Homo sapiens: one gene and its partners. The protein of the gene in region 4 purifies or fractionates together with the protein of the main gene of each other region. This does not show direct contact. Each region holds a gene or a part of one and is shown on either strand. Other genes may lie near its edges. The genes, in order: USP1, JUP, USP12 and RAD51AP1.

Region 1 (7,027 bases), on a different chromosome or scaffold from region 4:
ACATTTCTGTACTTTAAAAATTCTACAGTAAAGCAGCAGTGAACTTGGTTGACAACTCCAGTCTGACTTGATAGTCTGTAGCGGCACAAAAAAGTACGCTTCAGTGTACTTCTTAGTCAAATCTAGCAGTTTATAGTAGGAACAGCAAAACTGGTGGTTCCCCGTAGGAATCACATCGATAATGTTTAACTCATGTTAACACTGTGCTCAGCCATTTAGACTAACTTGGAGAAATATTTGTTGACTAAAATTGTCTTTCTGAGTTTAAATTTGATTATTTGTAGTGCAAAACATCTGTGTAGGGGTAAAAGGTTTTATATATATATATATATATATTTGTTTGGTTCAGAAGACTTGACAGTTATAAGACATTTTAAACTCTAGTCATGTAACTAGTCATACCTGTTGGAGGCATATGATTGCAAATTATAAAAATAAACTTTAAGTAATGCTTTTGATGCAAATAAATTATTTAGCTACAGAAAATAAATCAGAACAAAGTGGAATACTTTATTCCACCACCAGCAGCTCTAGCTGGAGTCTGTACTACTCCCTGTTTAACATATAGGCACTCTGCTGGGTGACTAAGGTGGATTTGGTCCCATGTGTTAATTTCCTAATAGCTATCAATAACCAGTTGAGGAGATTTGTGAGAGTGAAGCTTTTGTTTATCAGCATTCATACTTCTGAATACTTTGAGGTGCTAGAGTAATAATAGCTAGCAATCGTAAAATAAATGAAAATATTGGAAGGACCTAGTGGTTTTTTTGTTGTTGTTGTTAAAGAAGTAAAAGAATAGTAAACTTAAAGCATTTGTGTTTTGAGATGGGGTCTCCTTGTGTTGCCCAGGCTGGTCTTGAATTCCTGGGCTCGAGCAGTCCTCCCAAGTAGCTGGAATTACATGTCAATGCCCCCACACCCACATTCTGAACATTTTATTTTTAAGTGAGGGATAGCTACATATTTTTTTTTTTTTTACCAGCAGGAAGTCATATATAATTCTCTTCACAGACTTTCTTTCCTCTGAATTCTTATTAATAGAATCTTACTTAGTGCAGCCTCTCCCAAATATTGTCATGGTTAGTTTATTCCCAGGTTTCTGTTCAGTTAAACTATTTGATTAAAATGTCAAAGTAGATGAAACAAATCATAGTCTCTCAGTTCCTCAATTTTCTACTCTGTAAAATAGGATTAACATCCTTTTAAGGGAATTGTTCTGTGGCTTGTTATGTGTAATAATGTTTTTAAATGCTTTTAAAACTTTTATTCTGGGCATATAGCAATTTTTGAGCCTGTATTTCTTAAAATGTCATCTGAACAAGATTCACATACTTTTCAGATTATACAACTTTTGGGAAAAGACTAAATCTACAGAAGTAATATTTTCACCTTGTTTCTTTAAGATAACTACTTATCGTTCTCCCTTCTATATTTCATAGTGATCAAGTTGTTCCTGCAGCACAGTCTTCACCTATAAACTGTGAGAAGAGAGAAAACTTGTTACCATTTGTGGGACTGAATAATCTCGGCAATACTTGCTATCTTAATAGTATACTTCAGGTAAATTGACAATTTTGCTATATCATAAAGCTTTAGTAGGCAAAGATTGATGTAGCATTTAATGTTTTTGAGTTATTGGAGGACTTTAATGTCCATACTGTCTTTGCCTTTGATTGTTAATAAACCAGAATAGGCTAAAATAATAAGTTACATGTTATTAAACTTCCTTTGGGGTAAGAGAAAATGATAGACTAAATAAAGGTGGGATAGCAAAATTGAGTAGACCTTAAGTGGAAGGTCAAACCTTTAATTTCTTTCTCTGATTCCTGGTGCTACAGTGTGATATATGTCTTATCCCTTGGAAGTAACGTTGGCATTGTGTTGTGTGTCCGTTGGCGCTGTGTTGTGTGTCCTTGTAACCTTAAAGTCTTAGCAATATCTGCCCAGGTGCAGTGCTTTGTGCTAATGAGGGAAGACACTGGGCTACTACTGATGAAGTGGAGAACAAATTTTGACACAAAACTTAATCTCAGAATTTTAGGGTAATACATGTTAAAAGTGCTCTATAGAAAGCATGATGTTGTTTTAATGATTTTACGTGTATTGTTTGTTCAGTAAACACTTAAGACAATCTCACTTTTTATAGGTATTATATTTTTGTCCCGGTTTTAAATCTGGAGTAAAGCACTTATTTAATATTATTTCAAGGAAGAAAGAAGCTCTAAAGGATGAAGCCAATCAAAAAGACAAGGTAAGAAAAATAAAGAACAGAAAATAATGTAAAAAGCAAAAGTAAATTAATGGAAATTTACTTGCCTGGAAATGAAGAGGACTGGGGGGGTGGATGACAAAGATTATTTCTCTGTTAGCGAGCTATTGTCAGGCAATTATTTTTCATTCTTTCAAGGTGGCTAACTAGATAATTCCCTTTTACAATGTTTGCTCCTGTAATCTGTGTATCAAACTTTTGTTACTTGTATACTATATATTACTGTATACTATAATCACAATATGTTATACCCATGTACAACTTATTTACCCATTGTGTTTTCAAATTGAGTTAAAATTTAAATACAGTGTATTTAAAGAAATCTTTAACTTCCATAATTAAAAAACCATTGTAATTCACATAAATAGTAATTCATAATTCCTCTTAAAATTACAAAAAAGACCAGACGTGGTGGCTCATGCCTGTAATCCCAGCAGTTTGGGAGGTCAAGGTGGGTGGTGGATTGCTTGAGCGCAAGAGTTTGAGACCAGCCTGGGTAACATGGCAAGACCCTGTCTTTACTAAAAATACAAAAACTAGTAGGGCGTCATGGTGTGAGCCTGTAGTTCCAGCTAATTGGGAGGCTGAGGTGGAGGATTGCTTGAGCCCAGGAGGTTGAGGCTCCAGTGAGCCGCGATCAAGCCACTGCACTCCAGCCTGGGCGACAGAGACCCTGTCTCAAAATAAAAAAATAAAAAATAAGGCTTATTTGTACATCCCTTAAAATTAGTGCTATTATGCAACTTAGAAAATCTAGTATTCTTAAGTGAGACAAAGACAAAGGGGGAAGGTACTTAATTTGTTCATAAAATTATTGGTTTGTGTGTTTCTTTCTTGACAGGGAAATTGCAAAGAAGATTCTTTGGCAAGTTATGAATTGATATGCAGTTTACAGTCCTTAATCATTTCGGTTGAACAGCTCCAGGCTAGTTTTCTCTTAAATCCAGAGAAATATACTGATGAACTTGCCACTCAGCCAAGGCGACTGCTTAACACACTGAGGTATAGCCTATAATATAATTTTAGGGTTTCAATTTAGCTACTTGTTTATATCCTTGGAGGAGAATGACATGCGAAGAAACAGGAATAAAGGGCAAGGAAAGTAGAAACTCTAGGTCCACAGTCCTTTATATCCCAGAGACTCTGAATACTGGAAATTTTTTTCATAAATTTGGTGCTAAATTCGTTAGATCTGAACATATTATATGAGGCTTTTTATAGTCATTCATATTTATCTCTAACGTGAATATTCATACATGCTTCTATAGAAGTAGTAATGTGTTTAGTTATAGAGTACTCCCATATCAAGTCGGTGATAAATATTTTACTTATATGCCATATAATCATTGAATCTGAAAATGTCTGAATTTCTAAATGCGTGGTCCTAAGGATTTCACATTAAGAATTATAGGACTATATTCAAAATATGTGTAAGAACTGTAAATTCCAAATATTCTATTTTTATATGTGATTAGAGGAGAACTGTTGGCTAACTGGATTAGATTGCTTTTTGGTATTTTCTTAAAAATGAAACTTTACATATAAAATAGCCTTATTCAAATACAATTATAGGGCAAGTCTTTAAAACAATCACTTAAGCATTTAGTTTAAAAATAGAACTAGGTGCAATATATTGCTATACCTTAGTTAAGAGGTATTGTAGGCCGGTCACAGCTCACACTTGTAATCCCAGCACTTTGGGAGGTGAAGGTAGGTGGGTCATTTGAGGTCAGGAGTTCAAGACCAGTGTGGCCAACATGGTGAAACCCTGCCCCTACTAAAAATACAAAAATTAGCTGGGTGTGGTGGTTTGCACCTGTAGTCCCACCTACTCGGGAGACTGAGGCAGGAGAATCGCTTGAACCCGGGAGGCGGCGGTTGCAGTGAGCCAAGATTGCGCCATTGCAGTCCAGTCTGGGCAACAGATCAAGACCCTTGTCTCCAAAAAAAAAAAAAAAAAAAAGGCCATTGTAGCGTGGTGGCCAAGAGCGGGTTTGAATACTGGCTTTTCATCCTAAGTAGTTCTGTGACCTTGGGCAAGTTATTTAACCTGTCTGTGCCTTAGTGCTTGTATCTGTCAGTAATGGTGATAATAGTACCTCATAGGGTTATTGTGAAGATAATGTATACATAGGAGATAAAAAACATTTTGACTAAAACCTGGTGTATGGTAAGCATTATCTAAGTATTAGTTATTAATATATTTAGAAGAGGATCAAAGTATTATAATGAAAATAGGGTACAATTTACTCTTACTTTTAGTTACAGATAAGAAATTCCAAATTAGTGCTGAATAAATGTCTTGACATTTAAAAAATGAAATAATTTATGATTTTCCTTACATGAATTAATTTCTATATAGGCTTTATGTACTGTATCTTCAAAACTAGAATAGATGAAATGGAAATTTTTATTTATAGGGAACTCAACCCTATGTATGAAGGATATCTACAGCATGATGCACAGGAAGTATTACAATGTATTTTGGGAAACATTCAAGAAACATGCCAACTCCTAAAAAAAGAAGAAGTAAAAAATGTGGCAGAATTACCTACTAAGGTAGAAGAAATACCTCATCCGAAAGAGGAAATGAATGGTATTAACAGCATAGAGATGGACAGTATGAGGCATTCTGAAGACTTTAAAGAGAAACTCCCAAAAGGAAATGGGAAAAGAAAAAGTGACACTGAATTTGGTAACATGAAGAAAAAAGTTAAATTATCCAAGGAACACCAGTCATTGGAAGAGAACCAGAGACAAACTAGATCAAAAAGAAAAGCTACAAGTGATACATTAGAGAGTCCTCCTAAAATAATTCCCAAGTATATTTCTGAAAATGAGAGTCCAAGACCCTCACAAAAGAAATCAAGAGTTAAAATAAATTGGTTAAAGTCTGCAACTAAGCAACCCAGCATTCTTTCTAAATTTTGTAGTCTGGGAAAAATAACAACAAACCAAGGAGTCAAAGGACAATCTAAAGAAAATGAATGTGATCCTGAAGAGGACTTGGGGAAGTGTGAAAGTGATAACACAACTAATGGTTGTGGACTTGAATCTCCAGGAAATACTGTTACACCTGTAAATGTTAATGAAGTTAAACCCATAAACAAAGGTTAGTATAATTCTTAGACTTTGATAGGTAGAAGCATTAGCAGCTACAGAATTAGAATTTTCTCTTCCTAGATACATGTACAATATAATCTCTGGCTAAAATTGTTTCAAGAGAAGGAAATTTAACACTGAATGTGAACTATGGTGTTTTAAGTGCTATGCTTAGATTAGTGTGTGTGTATATATTGTATGCATATATATGTGTGTGTGTGTGTGTGTAATGTCATTAAAGTAATTTTAATTTATAGCTTATAAAGTAGGGAAGTTCGGCCAGGTATGTTAGCTCGCACCTGCAATCCCAGTACTTTGGGAGGCCTAGGCGGGCAGATCACCTGCGGTCAGGAGTTCAAGAGCAGCCTGGTCAACATGGTGAAACCCCGTCTCTACTAAAAATGCAAAAATTAGCCAGGCATGGTGGCGCACGCCTGTAGTCCCAGCTACTTGAGAGGCTGAGGCAGGAGAATCGCCTGAACCCGGGAGGTGGAGGTTGCAGTGAGCCAATATTATGCCACTGCACTCCAGCCTGGGGCGACAGAGCAAGACTCCGTCTCAAAAAAAAACAAATAATAATAAAGTAGGGAAGTTCAGTATATTTTAATGTACATTTAAGAGTACATTTCCCTTTATGCAGTGTTTGACATAAACTGATGAAGGACATTGCATTTAGTGAAATTTTAAAAGTAAAGACTAAGTACAGTCATGTGTTGCTTAACAACAGGGATATGTTCTGAGAAATGTGCTGTTTCATTGTGTGAATTTCACGGTGTACTTACACAACTAGATGCTAGAGCGTACTACACAACTAGCCTATATGGTATAGACCAGGGTATCTAATCTTTTGGCTTCCTTGGGCCACACTGGAAGAAGTGTCTTGGGCCACACCACACAGAATACACTAATGATAGCTGATGAGCCAAAAAAAAAAAAATCAAAAAAGTCTCATAATGTTTTAAGAAAGTTTATGAATTTGTTACGGGCTACAGGCAAGCTTTGCATGGCCTATTGCTCCTAGGCAACAAACCTGTATAGCATATAACTACTGAATACTGTAGGCAACTGTAGCACAATGGTATTTGTGTATCTAAGACGTATCTAAGCATAGATATGTAAACATAGGTACAGTAAAAATAATCATAGACTACTGTCATATGCGGTCCATTGTTAAATAATTGAAACGTTGGTAGGTGGTGCATAACTGTAAGTTACACGATACTTGAACTAGATTTTTACCTAGTTTTGTCCAGATCTACAGATATCAGGGAAAATGTGTAATATTGATATAGTGAATAGTTTTACCAAAAATGTCATCCTTATTCTGGGTTTATTCTATGGGGAGGTGTCTGTAGGAAGGGAGTTACAATACAACTGACTTTTTTTTATTTTTTATTTTTTTTATTTTTTTGGAGACAGAGTTTTGCTCTTGTTGCCCAGGCTAGAGTGCAATGGCATGATCTTGGCTCACTGCAACCTCCACCTCCCGGGTTCAAGCGATCCTCCTGCCTCAGCCTCCCGAGTAGCTGTGATTACAGGCATGCACCACCACACCCGGCTAATTTTGTATTTTTACTGGAGACAGGGTTTCTCCATGTTGGTCAGGCTGGTCTTGAACTCCGACCTCAGGTGATCTGCCCGCCTCAGCCTCCCAAA
Region 2 (7,123 bases), on a different chromosome or scaffold from region 4:
GTGTGTGTGTGTGTGTGCGCGCGCGTGTATTAGAGAAAGCTGGTGTTTGTGTATCTGAATCTGCACCCGCAAGTGTATATCCCTGAGGTGTGAGCATAGAAGGTTGTGTGTGTGTGTGTGTGTGTGGCTTGTGTACGTCTAAATTTCTACCTGTCTCTGGGGAAAAGGCCCCCATAGAATAAGGACTGTGGGTTTTTTTTCTTTTTTTTTACTTTTGAGCTGGAGTTTCGCACTTGTTGCCCAGGCTGGAGTGCAATGGCACGATTTCTGCTCACTGCAACCTCTGCCTCCCGGGTTCAAGCGATTCTCCTGCCTCAGCCTCCTGAGTAGCTGGGATTACAGGTGTGTGCCACCACGCCCAGCTAATTTTTTGTATTTTTAGTAGAGATGGGGTTTCTCTGTGTTGGTCAGGCTGGTCTCGAACTTCCGACCTTGGATGATCCACCCGCCTCGGCCTCCCAAAGTGCTGGGATTACAGGCATGAGCCACTGTGCCCGGCCCTAAGGACTGTGTTTGAATGGAGAACAGAAACTCTTCCATCTCCTTGTATGGCCCAGAGGCCTCGTGGAAGATGAGGGGGGTTGTGAGATAAGGAGAGGACGGTGGCCTGGTGGTCCTGGACACTGGCTGATGGTGTGCACCCTCCCCTAGAAAAGAGCCTCCCTCCCACCAGTCCCTCACTGAACCTCTCTGCGCCAGTTACTTCTGTCTCTGCAGCAGCTTGAGATGGGCCATGTGGTACCCTTATATTCTCTACTCTGAAGCACTAGCAAGCTGCAAGGTTGAGTTACCCATATGTGTTTTTGGCAGCCCATGGACTCTGCTTCCACTGAGCCCTGGGCAAGAGGAAGGAATTGAAACTGCAGGAATAGGAATTGAGGCTGGACATTAGAACAAGGAGACAGGGGCATTCACCATAAGGGAGGCTGCAGGATCTTCTTTCCTGGACATTTGTCAGAGAATTCTTGCCTTTAAAGGTTTGCAGGCAGGGGACTGGATAAGATGACCTTGCGGCCTTTTCTTCAAGTTCAAGCTACAGGGGAGACTGTGGTCACAGAAACCCCCATCCTATCCCTACATACCTCCTTTCACAAGAGACCAAATTGCCTGTGCAGACAGCTGAGTCTAGGAAACATCATTTCTGATTCTATTCTGTATTCTCAGATACAGATGAATCTCAGTGCCTGCCAGGCACATAGTAGGTGCTTAAAGAGAATCCCTTGATCTGGGAGGAGAGACTCAGCTCTAATCCCAGTCTTTGCCGCTGCTGTGGTGGTGCTTCCACCAGTCCCAGCCTGTGTGTTTAGCTCTGGGGCTGGTGTTATGCAACATGTTCCATGCTAAGACACGCAGGGGGCATTCTGGGGAGACACACACACACACACACACACACACACACACACACGGTTTATTCTGAAACCTTATTTCTGCTCCTCCACCCACATGGGCTCCTCCACCCCTCTCTGCAGTCAACCAGCCCTACCCTGCCTCTTTGCTGAGGTCAGGAGAAATAGGAAGGAGTCAGGCCAGGCTTGGAGCTGGGACGTATGTGTGTGTGCATGTGTGGAGGTGGGAGGTGGGCAGAAGGGGGAAGAAATGAAACCCTGGCAGCTGCAGCAGTCCAGGATTGTGAGCCCATTCCTTCCCCAGCTGTGGCCTGGCTACAGCTCTATGTGACAGGGTGACAAGCAGGTGGATGGGGCAGGGGTAAGGCAGGGATAAAGATAGGGAGGTAAGCTGGAGGATGGAGAGTTGAGGAAACAGGCAAAGGGCGGTGGCCCTGGTTATGGGATGGCCACTAGTTCAGGGATGTCCGTATCTCCCTGGCCCTGCTTTTGGATGGCGCAACTTCAGAAGGGAGAATGTTCAGCTACCATTCTTTTCTCTGGTGGGGAAAGTGGTCAAGGTTGCTGCTAAGGTACCTTCATCCAGCCCATCCTGTGTGCTAGCTTTGGGGCTGTAGAGCTTTGTTGATGGGGGACCCTTTTCTAAACCACCACTCCTCCAAAACCCACCCACACACGCTGCTTCTGCTTATCCTTCTATGAGCTCTTTGAAGGTTGGGATCATTTTTATTTCCTGTGTCACCAGGTTTTATTTTCTGTGTTCACCAGTGCCTAACATACAGTTGACAATGAATACTCAAGTGTTGAATGAAGGAATGTTTGTAGGGCCCTTGGCACACCATACAGCCACGAGCAGCATTCATGTCATCAACCACAGAAAGGAAGTGCCCTTGTCTTCTTAAGCTGCCTGTGAGAAGTCCTTTTTATTTTTTTGAGACAGAGTCTCACTCTGTCACCCAGGCTGGAGTGCAATGGCATGATCTCAGCTCACTGCAACCTCTGCCTCCCGGGTTCACGCCATTCTCCTGCCTCAGCCTCCCGAGTAGCTGGCATTACAGGTGCCCGCTGCCATGCCTGGCTAATTTCTGTATTTTCAGTAGAGATGGGGTTTCACCATGTCGGCCAGGCTGGTCTCGAACTCCTGACCTCAAGTGATCTGCCCACCTTGGCCTCCCAAATTGCTGGGATTACAGGCATGAGCCACCACGCCTGGCCGAGAAGTTCTCTCTGATCTCTACCCCAGGCTCTCCTATCGCAGAGGGGTGTGCTGCCCGGTTTATTTTTTTCTTTTCTTTTTTTTTTTTTTGTTTGAGATGGAGTCTCGCTCTGTCATGCCCAGGCTGGAGTGCAGTGACATGGTCTCGGCTCACTGCAACCTCCGCCTCCCAGGTTCAAGCAATTCTCCTGCCTCAGTCTCCCAGGCAGCTGGGATTATAGTTGCCCGCCACCACGCTCGGCTAACTTTTTGTATTTTTTGTAGAGATGGGGCTTCACCATATTGGCCAGGCTGGTGTTGAACTCCCGACCTCAGGTGATCCACCCGCCTTTGCCTCCCAAAATGCTGAGATTACAGGAGTGAGCCACTGCGCCTGGCCTGCCCCGTTTCTTTCATGCCAGGGCTGGATTTCCTTCAGATCTGCTGCTTGATGTTTCCAAGCCCACCAAAGCCTCCTGACACCAATACTGTATTTTTGTGCCAATTAATTGTTCTGTCTCTCCTCCAAGTGTTTGTGCCTTTTCTCTGCCCCTTCCCCATTGCCTTGACATTTTATGTCTATGCTCCTCTTCCATGAGGGGAACAGCTGGTTTGATGGTCCTTCAAATGAGAGGAAGGAGGTTCTAGCTTGGGGTGTGCCACTTTGTAGTTTTGTGACTTCTCTGAACTTCGGTTTCTTCATCTTTACAATGAGGGTCGTTTTCTCATCCTAACTATTTTTCAGAGCTGTCACAATAATTAAAAAAAAACATACCGTTAATTTAAATTTCTAACCTTTAGCAGTTTCTGAGTGCTTTCACAAACCTGACCTCATTTAATCCCCACATACTCCAGTGAGGTAGATATGGCTAATGTATCCAGTTTACAGAAGAGGAGAAACAGGGTGAAGTAACTTGCCTAAAATCATACCAAGTGGGAGAAGACCAAACCTGGCCTTCTAATTCTAAATCCCAGGAGTACTCCATCTTTCGGGAAAAAAATCCCACCCCAGCACAAAGCCTATGAAATGCTATACAAATATGTGATTACTACTTTGGGGCAAGGATGAATAAGCCCAAAGAAGCATCATGCCTGACGCTGAGTTGGCTGGCCGGTGAAGGCGTCTGTCCCTTCCCTTGGTATCCCTATGACTTACCTGTTGGACAGGTAGGGGGAAGGGGAGAGTAATGAGTCTCACCTGCTCAGAGCAAGGGTGGGGCAAGACACACCCCATCCCTTCCATTGGTTTTTTCCTTAGTCTTACTGACAGAGCCTTGTCCAATCAGGAGGAAGTAACTTTCTATCTGCCAATAGATGCAATGTTAGGATGAGACCTCAAGTTAGAGTCCATCCCTAGAGCCGACTGGCAGTCCCCGGGGCCAATGGCAAGCGGATAAACAGAGGCGGCCGTGGAAGAGGACTGGAGGCGAGGCTCCGCCCCTCCACGGGACAGTCAGGCGAGATAGCCAGTGAGCTCGCACCAGAGGGTGGGCGTCTCCCCCAGGGGCGGAGCTTCGAGGTGGCGAGGGGCGTGGCTTGGCTGTCAGGTCTCTTCGCCTTTTGTTCGGTTACTGAGTTGCTGCCTTGGCCAGAGTCCGGAGCAGCCGCCGCCCGACCACGCCGAGCTCAGTTCGCTGTCCGCGCCGGCTCCCACCCCGGCCCGACCCCGACCCGGCCCGGTCAGGCCCCATACTCAGGTGCGGGCTATCGGGGGCGCAGGTATCGTTGGGGACAGAGGGGTGGCGAGCGGCCGCGGGGCCGGTCCCAGCCGTCCCTGGGCAGGTGAGGGCCGGTGCCATCGAGCGCCACCCTGCACCGGCGGCAGGGGGCGCGCTGGGGTCCTGGGCGCGGCGACTTGGGGGTCGCGCGGTTCGGGCCGAGCGCGCCTCGGAGCTCCGCGAACCAGAGATCTGAGCAAGGCGGGGAGGGATCCGGACAGGTGCCTCCGGGGTCGCGCCTCCCCCGGGGCCCGCGCAGCTCGCCCGACGCCGCGTCCCTGACTCTCGCCCTGGGCTGGCGGGGGAGACTTTGCTCTGCTTCGACTGCGTCCCAGGGCTCACGCTGCAGTCAGGAATTTACCGTTTGGGGAACTTGCTGCCGCTGGTCTCTTTGGGGCCACCCTCACCCCACCCCACGCGTCATCCTCGCTTTCCCTCCCTCCCTACTCCCCCAGGCCTGGGTGGGGCCCTATTGTTTGCGCCCAGCTTGCCCAACTGTGGGGGCCGAGCGCACATTTTCCCAGCGACTCTGGCCCCACCTGCCGAGCAGGTGAGCGCACGGAGTCCAGAGGCCCTGCCCTCCAGCTCCCAGAGCCTCGTCGATACTACCTGCGGCGCCTCCCTCCACGCCGGTGGGAGCCCGGCTCTGGCTTCTTCAGCGGAGGTGGGATGGAGTGACTGGGGGGTGCAGGGCTCGGCTCAGTGTCCAGCTGGTGTCTGGCACCCGTGGCTCGCCCTGGGGTCTGGGGGGTGGGGTCTGTGCACGGATGAAGAATTCAGGGTCACCTGGCCCAGTTTCCAGTAGCTGTGGCTGCCAGAGTGTTGGTAGGGGAACAGGACCCGTCTTCTCTAACCTCTTATTGTTGGAAAAAATCACCCAAAACAAACTTTGCAGGAGGAAGTATTCACAGCAGCTTTATCTGGGGGTTTTCCCGTCTCCTTGCCCAAAACTTCCTTTAGGCTTAGGGGGTCCTTCCTGGTGCAAAACCCCTTCCCCCAGCCGGCCCCTGGCTGAACCTGGGCCGGTGCCTGGGCTCCGACCCTGTCTTCCCTGCCCCCACATTCATCCTGTTCGCTGGGCCCCAGGGGCCTGAGGTAGGGGCCGGGGTGGGGGGTGGAAAGTGCTGAGAGGGGAAGCAGCTTCTTCCTTCTCTTCCTGCCTCCTGGGACCACCACACCCCCTCAGACAAGGCCTGCGTAAGTGGTTGTCTCTCAAGCTCTGCCCCCTCCCCAGGAATGGGGGTGGGGCAGGGCTGGGCCAAACTGAGGAAGGTGGGGGGAGTGGTTGTTCTTGTCTTTTTTTTTTTGCCTCTACCCCATCCCCCACATTACTTAGCTGGCTGGTTATTGAGGCAGAAGCGCATGAGGCTGTGGGACTTGCCTTCCATTTGATTTCTGAATTGTGAAGGTGCATGCTTTCTGGAGGCCTGCACAGACCTTTCCCACCCGCTTTCCTGAAAGAATTTGACAGGGAAAGTGAGACCGCAGGAAGGCTTTTTGGGGGAAGGTTTCTTCAATGCTAGACTCTCTCAGGCAGAGCTGCATCGGGCCCCCTGCCTTCCCTGCTCCCAATTTCCTGAGACCGCCCCCCCCCACCCAGAATTGGGGATCTTGATCAGGGTTTGTACCCCGGTTTAAAAAAAAAATCTGAAATGTGGTCTTTTTGCAGGATTTGGAGCCCAGCCTCGTTGGGGAACAGAGAGAGAATACAACAGTTGGGTTCTCTCTCAGTCCTGGGGGTGGGAGAAAGATTGTGGGGGGCGGGGATCGAGAGTGCTTGGAGGGGAAGAGTCTACCACCTCTTTCTTTGTTGTAGATGGGGGAGTGAGGCTGGGGGCCCAGACTCAGCCCCTTTATCCTGGGTGGGGATCACGCTCAGCCCTGTGCTAGGGGGAAGTCAGTGTGGGAACTCAGATCCTTTTCTGCCGGGGGATGGGATTCTGCACCTCTGGGGAGCAACAGGAGCAGGGAGTTTGGGCAAAAATAACCTGCTTTCCCTCTTCTCTGTGCCAAGGTGGAGGAGGGGAGGGCATTGTAATTATGTTGGCTACATGATTAGTTTAGCTAATCTGGTTTGTGGCTGTGATGAAAAGATAATACTGAGGAAGTACTGCTAGGAGGTGCTTGGTGAAAACTGGCCACTGACTGGACTGGGGGATGCGGGGGAGGAGGAGAAGGTAGGACCCAGTTAGTCATTTCTTGCTAGATCAAGCCCCAGCTTGGGTGACTTGAGCCCTCCCACCCCCACTCCACCCCTCCCTTGCACCCTGGCTCCACCCCATTCCCTCTGGAGCCTCTGTTTGGGCTGCCAGGGCCGAGGCTTTGAGAATGCAGTGCATAGGAACGAAAAAGGTCGGGCTAGGGCTGCCAACCTTTTTCCCATCCTGGAGCCACCTTAGAGTGAGATGGGTCAATTGACTAGTCTACAGAAGGACTGTTTATTTGGAGAGATGGGACAGTGGGGCAGTTCTGAGCACAGGGCTTTGGGCTTGAACTGAGCTGGGTTTGAGACCCAGCTCTGTCTCTCATTACCTGAGCCTCAGTGACCTCTTTGGCAAAATGGGAATACTAATACCTATCTACCCAGTAAGTACTTGACAAACGGTAACTCAAGATCAAGGTAAGACTTTACAGAAACCAAGCACTTTCTTTTTTTTTTTTTTTTTTTTTTTTGAGATGGAGTCTCGCTCTGTCACCCAGGCTCACTGCAACCTCCGCCTCCTGGGTTCAAGTGATTCTCCTGCCTCAGCCTCCTGAGTAGCCAGGATTACAGGCGTGTGCCACCACCCCCGGCTGATTTTTGTATTTTTAGTAGAGACAGGGTTTCACCATGTTGCGCAGGCTGGTCTTGATCTCCTGACCTC
Region 3 (7,027 bases), on a different chromosome or scaffold from region 4:
AGCATAATTTAAATAAATCATTCTCCTGTTGATAAACATTTAGGATATTTTCAGACTTCTGCTGTTATAAATAAGCAGCCGTATTTATGCTTGTTTTGGTACATGCACAGATACTTACCTGGCATCGATACCTGGGAGAACTAGGTTGCATTATTTTAAATCTGTTACCAAAATTGCCTTTACAACGTGCCATACCAGTTTATACTCCCAGCAGCAACAGTTGAGAATGTCCATTTCTCCATACTCAAGCTAACACTGGATGGAAACTAAGTCAATTTTTATTTTGCCAAAGTGATGGGCAAAATGATATTTTGTCATTGTTTTAATTGTTATTTCCCAGTCCCTTGTCATGTATTATTTAGGCATTTGTATTTCTACTCTGAATTGGCTATTTTCCTTTGCCAGTTTTTAAAATTTTTTTTCTTGTTTTGTAAAGGGTTTTTTTTTAAATATTCTGTATATTAAACCTTTACATAGTCTGGATATTAATATGCAAATAATTATCCTTGTTCGTCACTTGTCTTCATTTATGTTGACTTTGCCATACAGAAGTTCATAGTTTTTACATAGTCAGTCTTTGATGTGTTTTGTATTCTGTTCAGTAGCAACAACAATTATATAGGTTGAGCATCCGTAATCCAGAAATCTGAAACTTTTTGAGCTGCATGATGCCACATGGGGTGGCTGAGGTAGTAACAACTTTACTTTCTGATGGTTCAGTGTACACAAATTTACTTCCCTGCACAAAGTTTTTAAAAATACTATATGAAGTTGCACTCCATCCTGGGCAACAAGAGCAAAACTCCATCTCAAAAAAAAAAAAAAAAAAGTACTATATAAAGTTACCTCCAGGCTATAAGGTGTATATGAAACAAATGAATTTCATGTTTAGATTTGAGTCACATCCCCAAAATATCTCATTATGTGTATGAAAATATTCTCAAATCTGAAGCAGTCTGAAGTCCCAACCACTGCTGGTCCCAAGCATTTTAGATAAAGGATATTCAACATGTAGTGATATTGCCAATATTGTTACTGTGGTTGTTGTTGAACAGAATACAAAACCTATTGTTGTATTCTAAGCACTTTTAATCTTCCTCCCAGCCTTGTGAGGTACAGGTACTGCTGTGAGCCCCATTTTTCAGATGAGGAATTATGGAACAGGGAGCTTGAATAAGTTGCCTATGCCACGCGTGCAGTTAGAAGTAGAACCATAGCACCAACCCAGACAGCCTTGCTCTAGCAGCTGTGCCCTCCTACCCCCATAAAAAGCTTCACTCATTCCCTTTCTGTTTTTACAATGACTTTGCAAAGAAAGATGGTATTCTGTTTTGTTGTTGTTGTTTTTGAGATGGAGTTTTGCTCTTGTTGCCCAGGCTGGAGTGCAATGGCGCAATCTCGGCTCACTGCAACCTCTACCTCCCGGGTTCAAGCGATTCTTCTGCCTCAGCTTCCCAAGTAGCTGGGATTACAGGCATGTGCCACCATGCCCAGTGAATTTTTTGTATTTAGTAGAGACGGACTTTCACCATGTTGGCCAGGCTGGTCTCAAACTCTTTACCTCAGGTGATCCACCTGCCTTGGCCTCCCAGAGTGCTGGATTATAGGCATGAGCCACTGCGCTTGGCCTGCTTTTTTTTTTTTTTTAAACTTACTATGGGATTGAACATTTTCTCATGTTTTTTAGCCTTTTGATTGTTTTTTTCTTATAAATTGATTGCCATTTATAAGATTGTCCAGTTTGGTTTTCTTTTATATGAGATTTGCTTTTATATGTTGAAAATGTTAATAATTTTCAGGTTTCACTTTTTTTAAAACTTTTTTAAAGATTTCTAATACATAGAACTTAATTTTATGTAGTCATATCTGTATCTCTTCTAAAATGTAATTGTTAATTTGTTTTATCTTAGACTTTCCCTAAATTTTTTTCTAAATTTGTATGCATTCATTTTTAAAATGTAAAATCTTTCTGGAACTTATTAAATGTACATTGAGGATCTAAAAATAAAATGTCCTAAATAGGTAATTTTTCTCAATGCATTTTATTGACCAATTCATGTATGTTCTTGTGTGTGGGCTTATACTGGGCATTACTTTGTGTGTGGCATGGTGGAGTCAGGCTGCCCAGTTTGAATCCTGGCTCTGCCATTTCTTGGCAGTGTGACTGTACTCTGTCTCGTCCCATTTTCATGTTTACAAATAAAGTTAATAACAATATTACATGGTTGTTGGGGATCAAATGAGATACTGCCTCTAAAGTCCTTACTGTTCTATGGTAGAGTTGTATATTGCCAAGCACAGGGTAAAGCACGCTTGATGTTAGCACCACCAATATTTCAGTTATATTTACTCATTTGTGTAACTGCAGGGAACGTTTTGTGGAATTATAAAGTCTCACATTTGGAAGGGACTTGAGATTATCTGGATTATATAGATAATTCTTGATAACATGATTCTTAAACCTGACTCTACATCAGAGTTAGTTGGAGGAGCTTTGAAAAGCCCCACGTTCTGGGCTTACCCCTTATCAACTAAATCAGAATCCCTGGGATGTATGGTTCAGTAATTTATTTTTGATAAACTTTGTGGGTCTAAAGCAGTTGGCTTGGCATTGGCAAATGGTTGTCCAACTTCTGCTTTAAAGCTTGCCAAGTTGAAATATTTGTGAAATAATAAGTCAGGTAAGCTAATAAGCAATTTCTTCTTAAATTCTCAGTATCTGTTATGCCAATATATAAGGATAGGTTTTGCCCTTTTCTCAGGATCAATTAGTAGTATTTTTAAACAAGATTTTAATTAATTTTACATTTTCCCCAAATACAGATAAAAGTTTTAGATGCGAAAGTTATTTGTTATACATTACAAAAACATTGTGCATTTATATTTTAGTTCTGATCCAATACTAGATATTCTTTTATAAATTGGTTTTTTATGAAGTTATGAATTCTGAAATAATTCTCTAATATAATGTTTTTATTTTCAGAGCTTTTTGACAACTACATGCAACAAGATGCCCATGAATTCTTAAATTACCTACTAAATACAATTGCTGATATTTTACAAGAAGAGAGAAAGCAGGAAAAACAAAATGGTCGTTTACCTAATGGTAATATTGATAATGAAAATAATAACAGCACACCAGACCCAACGTGGGTTCATGAGATTTTTCAGGGAACATTAACTAATGAAACCAGATGTCTTACTTGTGAAACTGTAAGTATATCATACAATTTTGTATAGAGAAAAATTGAATTACTATGTTAAAGGTTGTTCTTTGAGAAAGACAGAATGGAAGATGAACTTGAAAGTTGTAATTCTTAGGTATAGGAGTTAAAGATGTATTTTTCAGTTAAAAGGAATCTGTCTGTATTCTTAATGTAATGTTGCTTATTGACAATGAATACCTGAGGTGATAGAAAGATACTTACTGTAGCTTGAACTGTTTGATTTTCTTTCAGTTTAGGAGGCCATAGAACCATGTTGTGGAAATTATGTCTTATGACATAATCTCATAGGATCATACAGATCAGGGAGGCATATTAATTCGTTTTTCCTTTTTCTACGATTACCTTTAGTATCCATTGTTGGGATAAAAACTAAAGCATACAGTGTACCCTCAAGGAGGGGAAAAAATCCCACTTGCTGGACACTTTGTAAAGATGAAGCTTGAAAATTGTTACACCCAGGCTGGAGTGCAGTGGCCCAATCTCAGCTCACTGTAGCCTCGACTTCCTGGGCTCAAGCAATCCTTCCATCTAAGCCTCATAAGTAGCAAGGACCACGAGCACGTGCCACCACACCCAGCTAATTTTTAAATTTTTATTTTTTGTAGAGACAGGGGTCTTACTGTGTTGCTCAGGCTGGTCTTGAACTCCTGGGCTCAAGCAGTCTTTCCACCTTGGCCTCTCAAAGTTCTGGGATTACAGGTGTGAGCCATTATGCCCGGCCAGTCATGTTCTTTATAGCATTTTCCCTATTCAGTACAGAATCCAATTTAGAGGGGGACATTGCATTTAGTTGTTTCTTTAGCCTTCTTTAACCTGAAACATTTACATGGTCTTTTTTTTTTTGAGAATATGCCTCCCTCACCTTTTTAAAATCAGATGTTCTCATATTTAGTTTCTCTGATGTTTCTTCCTAACTAGATGCAGGTTATGCATTCATGGCTAATAATAATATATCATTCATGTTGTGTTTTTCTCGGGGCATCACGTCTGTAGGCACACAATATCCATCTGCCTCTCATTGGTGAAATTAATTTTTGATCACCCAGTCAAGGTGGTGGTGTTTCTCCATTTGATTTATTTATTTGGAGACAGGTTCTTGCTCTGTCGCCCAGGCTTTAGTGCAGTGACACTGTTATAGATCATTATAGCCCCAAGACTCCTGGGCTCAAGTGATCCTCCTGCCTCAGCCTTCTGAGTAACTAGGACTACAGTGCATGCCATCACCCCCAGCTAGTTTTTAAACTTTTTTGAGACAGAGTCTTGCTGTGTTACCCAGGCTGGTCTTGAACTCCTGCCCTCAAGTAACCCACCTGCCTCAGCCTCCCAGAGTGTTGGGATTACAGACATGATCCACCGTGCTGGGCCAGTTTCTCCACTTTATGATGACTTTTTTTTTTTTTTTTAAATCCCCTTGCAATTAGTAGGCAGTCTGTGGGGAGACACAAATACCTCCCTCCTCATCAAAATCTCACCCAAGATTTAGCATGCATTTATGATTTTGCCTGATCTCATCTTTACTGTGACAGTTGTGCTGCTAGTTTTTAATAACATTGGAAAATAGGGTCCACAAGCAAGAAAGCTAAGAGTCCTGTAAAGTCTCCATAGTTTTGCCTTTTCCAGAATATTGTGTAGTTGAAATCATATAGTATGCAGCCTGTTTGGATTAGCTTCTTCCACTTAGCAATATGCATTTAAGGTTCTTCCATGTCTTTTTAAGGCTTGATAACTTATTTCCTTTATTTTTGGCTGAGCAACATTTCCACTGTAAGGATGTGCTGCAGTTTTTAAAGTTCATTCACTTACTGAAGGACGTCTTGGTTGCTTCCAAGTTTTGCCAATTATGAATAAAGCTGCTATAAACATTTGTGTGCAGGTTTTTGTGTGGATGTGAGTTTTTACTTCCTTTGTGTAAATATCAAGGAGCAGGATCACTGGATTGTATGGTAAGAGTATACTTAGTTTGATAAGAAACCAACATTCTGTCTTCCACAGTGGCTGTACGATTTTTCCTTCTTACCAGCAGTGAATGAGAGTTCTTGTTTCTCCACATCCTTGCTGACATTTGGTGTTGTCAGTTGGATTTTGGCCATTCTAATAAGTGTGTAGTGTTATCTCATGTTAATTTGCAAGGCCCTAATGACATATGATGTTGATCATCTTTTTGTCTGCTTATTTATCATCTATATCTCTTTAGTGATGTGTCCAGATCTTTTGTCCATTTTTTAATCAGGCTGTTTTTCTTTGAGTATTGTCGAATTTTAAGTGGGTTTTTTTTTTCGGGTATAATTTTGGCTACTAGTTCATAATCAGGTGGGTCTTTGGCAAATATTTTCTCCCAGTCCGTGACTTGTTTTTCATTCTTTTAACACTGTTTTTGGCAGAGTGGAAGTTTTTTTTTTTTGAGATGGAGTTTCGCTCTCGTTGCCCAGGCTGGAGCGCAGTGGCTCACCGCAACCTCTGCCTCCTGGGTTCAAGTGGTTCTCTTGTGTCAGCCTCCCTAGTAGCCAGGATTACAGGCACGCGCCACCACGCCCGGCTAATTTTGTAATTTTAATAGAGACAGGGTTTCTCCATGTTGGTCAGGCTGGTCTTGAACTCCCGACCTCAAGTGATCCACCCACCTTGGCCTCCTAAAGTGCTGGAATTACAGGCGTGAGCCACCGGGCCTGGCTGGCAGAGCAGAAGTTTTTAATGTTTTAATTATCAGTTTTTAATTTTAATAAAGTCCAACTTTTTCTTTCATGCATTATACTTTTGGTGTTGTATCTAAAAAGTCATCCATAAACTAAAGGTCCCTTAGAATTTCTCCTATGTTATCTAGGAATTATATAGTTTTTCATTTTATATTTAAGTCTATGATCCTTTTTGAGTTAATTTCTGTATAAGGTATTAGAAAGTTTATTCTGGGTTAATTTTTTTGCATGTGGATGTCCATCTGCTCCAGCATCATTTGTTTAAAAGACAATTCTTTCTCTGTTGAATTGCCTTTGCTCCTTTGTCAAAGATGAGTTGACTCTTATTTGTGTGAGTGTATTTCTGGTCACTGTCTTCTGTCCTGTTGGTCCGTATATCTGTTCTTTCCCCACTACCACACTGTCTTGATTACCGTAGCTTTAGAGTAAGTCTTAAAGTCAGGTAGTCTCAGTCCTCTGACTTTGTTCTTCTTCAATATTTTGTTGGCTATTCTGGGTCTTTTGCCTCTCCATGTAAACTTTAGAATCAAGTTCGTCGATATCCACAAAATAACTTGCTGGGATTTTGATAAGGATTTTGCTGAACCTATAGATGAAGTTGGGAAAAAAATGATATCTTGACAAAGTTGAGTCTTCTTATCTAAGTACATGCACTGTCTCCCCTTATTTACCACTTTTTTTGCTATCTTTCATTGGAGTTTGGTAGTTCTTCCTCATATCAATACCATGCGTGTTTTGTTAGATTTATATTTAAGTATTCATTTTGGGGGGTGCTAAGCACCAACTATGCCAGGTAGAAGATGGTAGAAGATGAGTAAGACATAAGCCTCTGATCACAAGATACTCCTATGGTAATGAAGACTGGCAAAGCAGTGTTCAGGCAGTTCCAGTACAGTGTGTTATCGTATGTGTATGCACAGGATGCCATGCCAGCCAGAGAATAGTAGACCTAACCCAGGTGGGAGTGGGAAGGATTTGGACAGGTAAAGGACCAGCTTCCTGGAGGAGCTCATGCTTGTATTTTAGAAATGCAATTGGTAATGTCTCAGGTGGTAGGAAGCTGGTGTCTATAACACCCTTTTCTGGTGTTCTCTATGAGGGTTCCTT
Region 4 (7,027 bases):
TTTAAGGTTTAGTCACTAGACTTCAGTGGGAAGAACAGGAAAGTAAAGATGTGTAAAATGCAGTGTGGTAAGGGATATGGCAGACTCTAAAGGTATGCCAAGTAGAAAAGGAAACTGCAATCTGGGGGTATGTGTTTTAAAGTTAGAAGGAGGTGAGTGAGGATGGTCTGAACCAAATCAAGATTGAAGAGTAAAGGTGAATTGAGAGAAGCTTTCCAGGCAGAGGGAGTACAGTGTGCAAAGATGGAGGATGCACCAAGTTCCAGAATCAGTAGTACTGACTGGTTCAGTGTACGGCTGGAGCAGAAATCTCAAGGGTAGGAAATGTGAGAGATAGACACTGGGTGTAGATCACTTATGAAGAGCTTTGCAGACCATGTACAAGAGTCTGGCTAGTCACAGTCATGCACATATTTTTCTCAGGAGTGATTTGTATTTTAAAAACATCTTTCTGGTGGTAGTGTAGGAGAAGTAGGCTACTTAGAAGGTTATTATGGTAATCAGGTAAGAGGAAATGGGGGCCTGCTAAGGTGGAGAATAGAAGGAAAACAGCACATTAGATATGTTTTGGCAAAAATAGGTGGGAGGCAGCAATGGAGATGAAGAAATAATCCATGACTTGCAGGTTCCTGTCATGGGCACACTTTGATGGTGCCATTTATCTAGAGAATAAACACAAGCCTGGAAGTATGTTTTGGTTCTATTTATTTATTTTTTTGGTGGTGGGGAGGGAGGAGAGGTGGCATTAAGTTCACTTTCAGACAGTGCTTGTTTTGAGATACCTAGGGGTATTTCAACACATATAAACATGAACATTTTCACCGTATACTCTTCCTAATGTTAACATCTGCATCCTCTAGATCAGCACTGTCTGATGGAACTTTCTGTGATTATAGAAATGTTTTGTGTTTTGTGCTGTCCAATATGGTAGCCGCTAGCCATATACAGTTACTGTGCACTTGAAATGTGGCTTGCAAAACTGAGGAACTGATTTTTAAATTTTACTTAATTTTAATTAATTCAAATGTAATATAGCCACACATGGCTAGAGGTTACCATATTGGACAGCATAGCTCTCAACATTTTTTCTATCAAGGGAAAATTATAACATGTGCTAGACACAATTCGCAAAGTTTACCCAATACATTACTAGTAGGACTAAAAATATAATCCATTTTTCCTAATTCCTAGTCCTATCACTTAATGGTTAAATTTCATTTCTAATATTATATATTAAATCTCAGTTGTGAAGCAACTTGCTCCAAGGGATAGAGAAAAGATTTTAAATGGTAAACTCCAACTTGGGAACTGAAGTTTTATTTTTAGTTATTAGTGTGTCTTGGTGAAGAAGCATAAACAAACATCTAAAGAAAATACAAAATATATTCATGGTGTTAATAACTTTTTCCTATTATAGCTTGTAGTAGGCAGAATACTGGCTCCTCAGATGTCTACATCGTCATTGCCAGAACATGTGAATATGTTACCTTACATGGCAAAGGGACTTTGCAGATGTAATTAAGAATCTTAGATGGGGAAATTACACTGAATTATCTGGAGGGGCCCAATGTAATCACAGGGTCCTTATAAGTAAACGTGAGCAGGAAGAAAGTCAGAGTCGAGTAACATGATGTGAGAAAGTCCCTGCCATTGCTCTCTGAAGGTGGAAGGGGCCACAAGCCAAGAAATGCACCCTCAAGGAGCTAGAAAAGACAAGAACGTGGTTTGTCTCCTAGAGCCTCCACAAAGGACCACAGTTTTGCTGACTACTTGATTTTAGCCCAGTGAGAACCACTTTCGACTTCTGATACTCAGAATTTCTGGAACCCAGATGAAGTCATCAATTAAAAAAAAAACACTCTAATTAAAAAACCTCATTAATTCAAAATACAGGAGAGAGAAGAATATAACTCAATCAGTACTTAATTCTCATTTAATTCTTAGTAAGTACTCAGCAACAGGCTACTGAAGGTGACAGCAGCTCCTATGAATAAATGGAAAGACTAAATAATGGAACTTTTAATATCAATAGCATATATATTAAATAAACCAAGACATAAAAATGATTATCAAGAAATAAAACAAACTCAGTTAATGACAGTTATATTTTGCAATAACCTATCATATACTATGAACTCAAAAATATCCTAACTTCTTTTACACAAGAAACAGGTATTCCATGTTCGAGTCACCATAAATTTTAAACGTTTTATCATAAAAGTAGTTTCTAATGGAATTTGTTTTGGGGAAATAAAAAAAAAAAAAGGGCCCTAAACATGTGGCAAAAGAGCTCTCAAATCAGACTAAGTAAAGCACAAAAGCAAAAAATTAGAATTATGCAAACTTCCTTGTTTTGTCTGGAGAAAATATGGTCCAAGATACAGCTTAGACTCTGAATGGACAAACATGGGTTCAAATTCTAGCCCTTCACCTATTAGATGTAAGATTTCCAACAAATTATTTAACCTCTCTGACACTCAGTTTTTCACTGTAGAATGCAGGTGACAACAGCTAACCACAGACGGCAGCCATGAGTACCAAAGTGAGGTCATATACAGTAAGTGCTAGCATACGTAGTGGAGTCAGCATTCTTGTCCGCTTTTCTCCCTTCCCCACCCCACCTTCCTTTTACATATTTTAACAAGAAATGGACGTTAGGAAAATGTTAAAGAGAACAAAGGCAAAAATAAGAAAAATACGGCAAACAAACCACATACATTTCCTTTATAAAATTAAGTGTTTTGGACCAAGCTTACCCAAAGCATTACATTTGGATTTAGATTTCTTCTCTTTCTTTTCTACTGGGGATTTTACCTTCACTTCTTTCTTTTTAATTTCTTTAACTTTACTTTTTCTCATAGAGAAGTCTTCGTCATTATCCTCACTCTCACAAAAATCAGAATCATCCTCAGAATCTTCACCTAAAACAGAAGATTATATAGTTCATCTTTGCTCTAAAAAGTGAGGATTCTGTTGCCTTAACTTTATCCACAGCTTTCAGATTCTTATGCACCTTTGTGCTGCACTGTTTCCAGTAGCAGAACACTGCAGTGGTTGCCATTGTGGGTGCCTGGGTTTGCATCCTCAGACAGGTCACTAACTTCACTGAGCCTCAGTTTCCTCACCTAGAAAATGGGGATAACTGTAAACCTCCATCAAAGGGTTGTTGCGTGGATTAAATGAGTTAATATATATATAATGCATTTAGAATAACATCTGCAATATACTGAGCAAAATAAAATTGTTTGCTATTACCACCATCACTATAAATTTCCCATCAGTAATCTTTACTTCAGATTTTACCATTTTAACTCAGTGACTTTTGAAAAGAATGGTAGGGTATGACAATAGCTAGTCTTTCAAAACAGTGACATTTATGGTAATAGTGAGCCTTCCCTTAATCACATAAACTTCAACATTCTGGAACAGACCAAATGAGAATTGAGATAACCATACACAACAATCTTAGCAGATAATCCTAGAGCTGATTTCATTTGGGACAAACCTTTATTTCTCAAAAATGCTTTTCTGCACTTCGTGGCAAAATATAAGCCAGTGATCTAATTTTGAAAGTGCTACAGCTGCTCTAGAAAAAAGCATTTCCTAACCTGATAGTTAAGCAATGATCTTTCTATTTTTTGAGGGGGTTAGGATCAGAAAACCATGCCTTGTAGATAAACTCTGAAAACTAAGTGTAAATAGGGTTAGTCCTATATTAATATAAAACTTTTTTACATTTTTAATATTATGGACATGCTTATTGCAGAAAATGCTTAAATCAAAAAATGTACAAATAAAATGAAAAATAAACAGTACATGCTGATTGTAGAAAATACAGACCATACAAAACTTTATTAAAGAAAATCTACTCTGTAATCTCACCACTCAGAGATAACCACTATTGTCCCCACATACTAATATCTACCTATCTATAAGAAATATTATATGTAAAATACAATCATATAAAATTTTCAAACCTATACCACAGTAGACAGTAATAAACCACCACTCAGATTCAACAATTATCAACATTTTGCTCCATTTGTTTCATCTATCTCGCTCTTCTTCTTCTATTCCCTTTTGTAGTATATTAAAATAAAATCAAGGCATCACATCATTACATTCCTACATACTTCAGAATGTATCTCTAAAAAACATAAGCATTTTCTCATACAACAATGCCATTATTACATCTAGCAATACCAACACTAGTTTCTTGGTATCATCTTCTATTCAGTCTATATTAATCTCTTTTAATATAGAGCAGTATCTTCTCCCTGTCCTCCCTTGTGTCTGACTTGCTGAAGCAGTTGAGTCAATTGTCCTGTAGAATGTCCTAAATTCTGGATTTGTCTGTTTTCTAGCTCATGGTGTCATTTAACTTAATCTTGCTTTTTTTTTTTTTTTTTGAGATGGAGCCTCACTCTGTCGCCCAGGCTGGAGTGCAGTGGCACAATCCTGGCTCACTGCAACCTCTGTCTCCCAGGTTCAAGCAATTCTCCTGCTTCAGCCTCCCAAGTAGCTGGGATTACAGGCACACAACACCACGCCCAGCTAATTTTTGTGTTTTAGTAGAGAAGGGGTTTCACCATGTTGGCCAGGCTGGTCTCGAACTCCTGACTTCAACTGATCCACCCACCTCAGCCTCCCAAAGTGCTGGGATTACAGGTGTGAGCCACTGTGCCCGGCCATATTCTTGCATTTTATGTGAGCTGGAATTCTGCTCTCAAGGCTTGAGTGGATTCAGGCTCGCTTTTTTTGGTGGTGGGGGGAGGAGGGACGGCAAGAATATACTTCATAAGTATATTCTTTGTACTTCATATTACATCACATCAGAAATCATATAATGTGTGGTTGTCCCTCTCTTAGGTGGTTCAGGTGATGCCAGCCTGAATTCAACATTGTAAAGATCCTTATCAACCTTCCATTGATGACCTTTACCTAAATCAACAATGTCATTTATGGGCTGGGCACAGTGGTTCACCTCTGTAATCCCAACACTTTGGTAGGCCAAAGCAGGTGGATCACATGAGGTCAGGAGTTCAAGACCACCCTGGCCAACATGCTGAAACTCCATCTCTACTAAAAATACAGAAATTAGTTAGGCATGGTGGCGCATGCCTGTAGTCCCAGCTACTTGGGAGGCTGAGACACAAGAATTGCTTGAACCTGTGAGGCGGAGGCCATGGTCAGCCAAGATCGTGCCACTACACTCCCGCCTGGGCGACAGAGCGAGATTCCATCTCAAAAAACAAAACGAAACAAAAACAAAAAACAATGTCATTATGATCTTCAAATTGCAATGTCCTTATTCTATCATTGTTCCCACACACAATGTTAAAGATAATCAACTCACATGTTCACATAACGGTTCCCGTGCTATAGAGAATCAGCCCAGAAAGGCCAGCAGGTCCCATGAGGGCTGTTAGAAATGCAGCCTGCAAATTCAAGCAATCCTAAGAAGCTCTCCGCTCAAAGAAGGCAAGGGGTAGAGGAACTTTCTCCAAACTTTCCAAATATATTATCTACAACAAAACTTTCTGTGTATCCAATAGTTCTGATACTGCATGTGTTCAGTAACTTAGAAGTCTGAAGGATTCTCTTCTTGGCTCAAGAGGATAAACAGTAGGCCCTGGCAACATTTCTGTGTAACAAGCTTGTTCAGAAATGGGGTCCAACTAATCTTCGTCAGTCAATTGAGAAAGCAATTTAAATAAAATTAGAGATGGGGAGTTGGAATTCCCAAAATTCCAAGTCATTCGCATCCCATAGAGGAAAATCTGGAAGGCCCAAACACTTCAGTTACGGATTTTGGGAACTGTTAGAGAAAAGACTTATCTTCTCTGCAATTTTCTCTTTTCTTTCCCTAATGAAGGTCACACATGGTCCTTTCTATTCTCATCCAGGACAAGCGAATGCAGGGGGAAAACTGAAATGTCACTTTGGGGCTGCTTCCACTTCTTGGCTATTATGAATAATGCTGCTATGAACACGGGTATGCAAATGTCTCCCTGAGATCCTGCTTTCAATCGTTTTGGATACATACTCAGAAGTGGATTGCTAGATCATATAGTATAGGCTGAGTATCCCTTATCTGAGGTGCTTGGGACCAGACATGTTTCAGGGTTCAGATTTTCTTTGGGTTTTGGAACATCTGCATTATACCAGTTGGGCATTCCAATTCCAGAAATCCAAAATGCTCAAATGAGTATTTCCTTTAAGCATCACATTGGCGCTCAAAGAGTGTCTTTGCATTTTCCTGTCTCCCAGGCCCTCCCAAAGTAAAACAAATGCAAAACAGTCTTTTTTCATGTATTTCCGTTGTTCCAGAAGGACAGGAGCTGTTTGTTTTTTTCACTATTGTATCCCTAGTATCTAGAATATAATGCACATAAAAAGCATTCAAATATTAGTCGAATAAGTGACGATGAGCAAATCTGTTATTGTTTGTTGATAGTATATCAAAATCTAAAATATGGTATCTTGATTTGGCCTACATTTATGAATTTATGAATTTAAATTTTTAATTAATATGTTATAATGTTCTGTCAAGGTCACTACACTTTCCATTTGCCCAATTTCTAAATGAGTCTAAAAACCATCATAATAAAATATAGATTTCATATCACTTCTGCCTCAGAATAATTCATGGATTTCTACTACCTCCAGGAAAAAAAAGCCTACACTTCTTCCAGTGGGTCTGAGACCCTCCCTGATTAGTACCAGCCTCCCTCTCGAGCCTCTTCCATGTTCATCCCAGCAAGCCTCAGTTAGAGACAAATAGAGCATTTGTCTATTCCACAGGTAATGCCTTTCTGTTAGTCAGAAATGCTACTTTACACCTTTAGTTTGTTGAAACGCTACTCATTTTTCAAGGCATAGCTTAAAGGTTAACTCGTAGAAAAAACTTTTTCCCCAAATGCTATCACTGAATTGAACTGTTCTGTGTGTCCCTGAAGTTTGCACACCCCAAAGGTTTAACACAGTGCTTTGCACAATTAATAGCTTCCAAGAACTTTTTTGACTG

Evidence for each region.
Region 1: the proteins of RAD51AP1 (region 4) and USP1 purify together in Homo sapiens (affinity purification with mass spectrometry; 4 studies listed by BioGRID and IntAct, with this or other methods). This does not show direct contact.
Region 2: the proteins of RAD51AP1 (region 4) and JUP purify together in Homo sapiens (affinity purification with mass spectrometry; 2 studies listed by BioGRID and IntAct, with this or other methods). This does not show direct contact.
Region 3: the proteins of RAD51AP1 (region 4) and USP12 purify together in Homo sapiens (affinity purification with mass spectrometry; 2 studies listed by BioGRID and IntAct, with this or other methods). This does not show direct contact.

What each region holds. Positions count from the first base shown.
Region 1 is NC_000001.11:62,440,049-62,447,075, forward strand, and holds part of USP1 (ubiquitin carboxyl-terminal hydrolase 1), read left to right. Parts: intron 1-1,439; coding exon 1,440-1,560; intron 1,561-2,146; coding exon 2,147-2,251; intron 2,252-3,110; coding exon 3,111-3,271; intron 3,272-4,689; coding exon 4,690-5,381; intron 5,382-7,027. UniProt on the Homo sapiens protein: Negative regulator of DNA damage repair which specifically deubiquitinates monoubiquitinated FANCD2. Also involved in PCNA-mediated translesion synthesis (TLS) by deubiquitinating monoubiquitinated PCNA.
Region 2 is NC_000017.11:41,783,703-41,790,825, reverse strand, and holds the start of JUP (junction plakoglobin), read left to right. Parts: upstream 1-4,114; 5' UTR 4,115-4,238; exon of another isoform or gene 4,239-4,323; intron 4,324-4,718; exon of another isoform or gene 4,719-4,809; intron 4,810-4,849; exon of another isoform or gene 4,850-6,845; intron 6,846-7,123. UniProt on the Homo sapiens protein: Common junctional plaque protein. The membrane-associated plaques are architectural elements in an important strategic position to influence the arrangement and function of both the cytoskeleton and the cells within the tissue.
Region 3 is NC_000013.11:27,091,787-27,098,813, reverse strand, and holds part of USP12 (ubiquitin carboxyl-terminal hydrolase 12), read left to right. Parts: intron 1-2,983; coding exon 2,984-3,213; intron 3,214-7,027. UniProt on the Homo sapiens protein: Deubiquitinating enzyme that plays various roles in the regulation of the immune response and inflammation.
Region 4 is NC_000012.12:4,548,877-4,555,903, reverse strand, and holds part of RAD51AP1 (RAD51-associated protein 1), read right to left. Parts: intron 2,922-7,027; coding exon 2,757-2,921; intron 1-2,756. UniProt on the Homo sapiens protein: Structure-specific DNA-binding protein involved in DNA repair by promoting RAD51-mediated homologous recombination.